Regions from separate parts of the Homo sapiens genome. Here region 1 is linked to region 2. Evidence: fine-mapped expression QTL. A gene starts in region 2. The other region holds a variant in brackets. All regions are shown on one strand. Distances are between the middles of the regions. Region 1 overlaps PEBP4 (phosphatidylethanolamine binding protein 4). Region 2 holds the start of PEBP4 (phosphatidylethanolamine binding protein 4).

What was found. PIP is the estimated chance that this variant, and not a neighbour inherited with it, causes the effect. A credible set is the group of variants that fine-mapping cannot tell apart.
Region 1: its variant is the best candidate, but not a certain one, in a credible set for the expression of PEBP4 in lung (TOPMed, PIP 0.52).

The regions. Positions count from the first base shown.
Region 1 is chr8:22,742,815-22,745,717 of GRCh38, reverse strand. The region is part of intron 4 of PEBP4 (phosphatidylethanolamine binding protein 4); the gene reads left to right. It overlaps LOC124901908 (a long non-coding RNA gene), which reads right to left. Exons shown (of 3, transcript XR_007060855.1): 2 at 977-1,124. Among named protein-coding and RNA genes, the nearest start is that of EGR3, 51 kb to the right of the region's middle. RefSeq lists enhancers at 679-1,486, 525-1,724 and a silencer at 1,775-1,834. The variant G/C (reference allele first, on the strand shown) is at 1,338.
Region 2 is chr8:22,926,225-22,929,127 of GRCh38, reverse strand. It overlaps PEBP4 (phosphatidylethanolamine binding protein 4), which reads left to right and starts at 1,214. Exons shown (of 7, transcript NM_144962.3): 1 at 1,214-1,305; 2 at 1,408-1,544. The coding sequence starts at 1,414.

The sequences.
Region 1 (2,903 bases), 180 kb after region 2:
AACGGGATCCTCTCACCTTGCTCTCAGGCAGAGGAGAGGCAGAAGGACAAATGGCTGTAGTCCCAGGCAGAGTGGTGGCCACAACACAGTAGGGTGAGGGGAGGGAATGCTGGGAGAAGGAAGGCTTCACAGAGGAAAGAAGTGTGAACTGGATTGGAAAGATAAAGAGAATCAGAGTAGTACACTTGAGACTGAGATCATCCATGAGCCAAGCTCACAAGGAACTTCATCAACTCTTCTCAGTTGAGCTAGACAGGGGCTCTGGAGGTCTCAGCCTGGGATCCGTGAAACTTTTAGCCATGGGGCCCCAGCCTCTGCCCCTGCCCTGAATCACCAGGGCTACCCCACATCCCTGCAGGGCTCACTCCCCCAATCCTCTGCGGGACCCAAGGCTGGGGACATGGTGACTCATCACACCACTCTCAGTGACACCTCCCCACCACAGTGCACAGGGTCCCCTAAGTCGAGAGGGCACTGGAGAATGTGGCCTGTCCCTGTCTCAAAAGCTTTCTGCCCCCAGGCCCGGGCATAACCCAGGAGAGAGCTGGGAAGATCTAGACGGGCTTTTCCATCCAACTTGAGCAAGTCCGAAGTCTCCAGAGAAATTCCAGCAAAGGGAAAAAAATATTCCCTTCCCTTCAGAATCAATTTTCTGAACACAGCCCCTCTTTGTTCTGAGGTGTAGACAAAAGAACATTAGACTATGAATCAGGAGACTTAGATCACGGGCCAGGACACCCGCATTCCATTTGCTGATCTGCTGCCGATTGGAACTCCCATCTCCGGCAAGTCATTAACCTCTCCAGAGCTTGTGTCCCCATCTGCAAACGCTACCCTCTCTGCCTCCTGGTGAAGGAGGATTAAGTGATACAGCAGTGCACAAGGGCCTGAAACCCCTAGAGTGGAGAGTGCTGGATACGGGTCCAGGACTGCTGTCACTGTCTAACAACCATGGCCCAACCCCCAAGTGACTCACCTGGCCTGTTTGCTCCCCACTCTCCCCATCCAAGGATGTAGGAGCTGTGCCTCTCTAAATGTTCCTCTTCTTCTGTCGTGCCCCCGTAGGAGGCTAAGCGTGACCTGAGACAGTGCATCGTCTGTTCTGCATTGTAAGAAGGCGATGTCTGCAAGAAGAGAGGACATGAAAAGGGGAGCTTGGTTAGGGGCACGAGGAACCTGCATGCGTGGGCTCCTCTGCCCTCCACTGACCCCAATTTTCGGCAGATGGCCTGGAGGCAGGGCTGGGCCCGCATCTGGCTGGGAACCGAGGCAGCAGGCTGACTCATACATGAGTCTTTTTCCACCGGCAGACCCTGTCATGGTGGCCTGTGGCTCCT[G/C]TCCAGGCTCTGACCGGAAGACCACAGTTAGGCAGTTCTAGAACTCAGGAGAAAACAGGTGAGTCTATCTCTGCATCCTCAAGGGAATTAGGGAGTCTGATTCTGCTCATCCCACCTCCCTCAGGTGCTACCAGTCACCAAGACTCCCTGGGCATCCCCCAGGGGCTTGTCTATGGCAAGAAGATTGCATGTTAATTTCCACTACACACTTTATCCCAAGTGATTTTATGTTCCCCTGACCAATGTCTACAATCAAATTGGGAGAGGGAGGCAGAATTCAAAGAACAACTTGAGTCTCTCAGGGAGCTGATCCTGGGAACACAGGGCAAGTATCTCTTTAAAAATACTCCCTGCACAGCAGGTCACACTGGCCTGCAGCCACAACCCCCAGGCTGTGATCTCACCAAGCTCCGAGAAGCCAAACAGGGTCAGGCTTGGCTGGTCCCCGAGTGAGCAGGGAGACCTCACAAGCAAAACACAGGTGTTACTGGTGATTCAGCGGGCCAGCCCCACCCTCCACGGAGTCTAGTTCTGCTCAGGTGTTGGAATTGCAACTGGGATGATTCAGGGAGCTCCTATCAGTACCTGGGCAGAGGAAAGGGGCGTGGTGCTGCCGGCAGGTGCTGAATGCTCTTTCTGGCCTCCATGTGTGACAAGTGTTGACACTCTTAAGAATCAGGGTGGATGCACTTCCTCCCTCCCTGTCCCCTGCCCATTTCCTAAGGCTGGTTGTTGTCAGCCATTGACCTAAATTCCTCACTTTGTCTCAACCAGATAAGGGATGGAGGAGGAAAAGGCAGCTCCGGAGGGGCTTCAGGCTCAGGAACCATTTAGCCCCCACTCCAAACAGCTGTGGTCTGGGGCTGCCATCAGGCTCCTGGCTCAGCCCCCAGGATGGTCCCTTCTGGTTTGGGAACAAGTAAGGATGAAACGGGTCCATAAAATGAGGGCCGAGGGCCGTCATTAGCCTGTTTTATGAGTACACAGATATTCATTACACCTCAACCCCGTCATTAGAGGCTCCAGCAAGAGCTCAGGCCCCTTCTTTATTACAGTAGAAACTGAGGGGGTTTCTCCCCCAAAGGGAGCTCTGCTTCTGCTTCTGGGAAGGAGGTCCTGCCCAGGAGGTCAGTAGCCTCCACTCTCAGGCAGGCCTCACTCTCACTGCCCTTGCTCACTCCCCAGCCCCAGCAGCTGGGCAGCCCAAGGGGAGGTCAGGTAGCCCAAGGAAGCACTGATAAGGGCCTGGGGCTTCTTGGGGACAGGAGGCTGGCATAAGAGGCCTGGGCACTGGAGTCTGGCATAAGAGAGCATTGGCTCCCCAGCACACAGCCCTTCACCGCCTGCCCCAACCAAGCACCAGTAGCTGGCAGAGAGTCTATGCAGCCTCCTCCAGAAAGCCCTCCCTGTTCCCCCAAGGCTCTCTGCGCTTCCTCTTCCTAGCGTTCATCACAGCTGTAATGATCTCTTGACTCTTGTGTCCTGCCAGACTGCAAGCCGCCCCATACAGGGACACCGCACTTGGCACCTAGCAGGAGCTCCATAGAGGTGGGCTGAGTTGACATC
Region 2 (2,903 bases):
GCTTAACCTGGTTGATTTCATTCTCATAATGATCTTGTGAGGAGGCTACTATTAGACTCTGTCCACTAGGGGAGATCTTGGGAATATGTTTTCTGGTTGGGGCAAGGGGGAGTCCTGGTTGTACTTCAGAGAACCTAATGATTGAGAAATGTGTTTAATATGTAGCCCCTAAGGGGGGCTTTTTGCTACAGGTTGGGATCCTGGAGGCAGGAATTGAGCCAGAAAGCAGACTATGCTGAAAGTAGTTTCTCTAAAGGTCTAGCTGCGTGTACTTTACAGCGATGATCTCATATTCCTTAGCAAGGCACCACGGTGACAGGAATTATTTTACTTGTTTGTGAAAAGGAAAAGTGGTGCATTCTAGGGAGACACAGTGGCCTCCCAGCATCCAGAGAGAGCTCAGAGCAGAAGCCAGGAGTCCTGAGTTGCTGGCACGTCTCTCCCACCCCCGCCTCTGAGAAGCAGAGAGCAGAGCTATTGGAAAGCCTGTTGCAAGCCGCCTTTATTCTTCTCCCTGCCCACTCAGGCTCAAACCAGAGTCCCACATGCACCTGGTGGCAGGACTGTTCCCCAAGGGAATGCAGGCGACAGTCCCCGGCTCCCCTTCCTCCCAGTGCACTGCTGGGGCAGGCCACCCCTTTCTGAGCCCCAAGCAGCTCCCCAGACCTCCTTCTCCAGATACGATTATTTTGGGAGAGTGCTGAGTGCAGCACAGCTGCAAGGTGCACCCAGACGCACCCTTCTGTCCTCAGCTGGCCCTTCGGAGCTGGCCCTTCGGAGCTGGCCTCGGTCTGGGGTGCACCTACCCCCACCCCCTGCAGCAGTCCCTCCTACACAAGGTCACTGTGTCCAACCACCTCCACCTTGGGGAAGCTCACAGGCTGTGGAGACAGGTGGTGGAAGAATGGGGGCCAGGAGAGTCAGAGCCGGTCTGAGGGGCACAGCCCAACTCCTAGCCCTGAGCCTGGGGTCACCAGCTTCCCAGGGCTTGCCTTACAGCCAAGGAGCAGGCTGGCCTTTGGCCAGCTGACCATCCCTGGGCCAACAGCAGGGACTGGACAAGGAGCTGCACCGAGGAGCTTATATAAGCACTTCTACTTTGCAGCCTGCTCTCTGCCCTGGCAGCCAGGACAAGAGTGACAACAAAGCTGTGTCCTGCCAGGGGAGGGGCCTCTGCCAGGAACGTACATTGAGTCCAACTTGGAAGAGGCCCAGTCCTCCCAAAGTACTTGTGTCCGGGTGGTGGACTGGATTAGCTGCGGAGCCCTGGAAGCTGCCTGTCCTTCTCCCTGTGCTTAACCAGAGGTCTCTATCCTGCCAAGTGGGCCCCTGGGGTCGGGGGCACAGGTAGTGGGCAGGAAGGCCCCTGCAGGGGATCCAGCCGCTCTAAAGTTCTTTCTGTTCCAGGTGCCCATGGGTTGGACAATGAGGCTGGTCACAGCAGCACTGTTACTGGGTCTCATGATGGTGGTCACTGGAGACGAGGATGAGAACAGCCCGTGTGCCCATGAGGCCCTCTTGGACGAGGACACCCTCTTTTGCCAGTAAGTCAGGGCAGGCTTGGAGGCGGGAGGCACAGAGGCTACCAGGCAGGTAGATGGCAGGGAGGGGTATATCCAGAACCAAGAAGCACCATCTCCTGAGCCTGATTTTATGGGAAGGCAGAACACGTGTCAGATCTGGAGACCACCTTGATGGAGGATGGCACTGAGAAAGGGATTTAGAAACAGACTCCTTCCTGCCTTCCAGAATGCACCTCTCCCAGGACCAGGAGGGCTGTGTATGTGGTCGGCTCTGCTTGGGCCCTCCAAACCTGGGGGGTCTTTGTGGGGGCAGGAGGCTGAGACCCTCAGAGAGAGACCCAGAGAGAGACCATCCCTCCCTGCAGCCTGAATGCCCCCTCTCCCCAGAACCCCAACAAAGAGGCATTTGAATGAAAGAAGGTGTATGATTAGACCCTTCCTGTGTGAGAGGTTTTTGTCAGTGATAGGACCCAGGAGCGTTTGTGCAGGGCCCTTTAGGGATCATGGCACTGGATGGAGTTGGGTGACGAGGCTGGCTTCTTCCCTTCCAAGGGCACAAGCTGCTTCTACTTTGGGTAAGCTGGAAAGCCTGGCGTTCGGCTCTCTCCTCACCAACTCTGCCGGTTAGAAAAGCAAGCCTTCATTTGTGTGGACTTGTGGGTCATCCTGAGGACTCCCCAGGCCAAACTGATGCCAAACCTCCCTGCCAGTTTGGTGGCTGAGGAGGGGGACACCCCACTGAGCCCACGTGTGAGAAATGAGAGAGGAGGAAAAAGAACTTTGACTACTTACTCTCTTCTGTACCTTTGAATTTTCACAAACATTACTGTTCATGAAAATGTTTGTTTTTCTTTTTAATTTTATTTAAAACATTTTTGACAAACATTACTTTTAGAACCATAAATACATGTCTTCTCTTAAAATTATGTAGTTGAATCCTTCTTAAAAAGTAACATTTTTGTTGGGTGAAGTGGCTCACATGTGTAATCCCAGCACTTTGGGAGGCCAAGGTGGAGGATCACTTGAGCCCAGGGGTTTGAGACCAGCCTGGGCAACATAGAGAGACTCTTTTCTCTACAAAACAGTTTAAAAACTAGCCAAGCATGCTGATGCACACCTGTCGTCCCAGCTACTCAAGAGGTTGAGGTGGGAGGATCGCTTAAACCCAGGAGGTCAAGGCTGGTCTGAGCCATGATTGCGCCACTGCATTCCAGCCTGGGCAACAGAGCCAGACCCTGCCTAAACAACAACAACAACAACAACAAAAAGTAACAAACTTTGTTCGTGTCAGTATATTTTGAAAAATCTTGTTAAATAGTTCTGGGTGTAGGCTGGGCACGGTGGCTCACACCTGTAATCCCAAGACTTTGGGAGACTGAG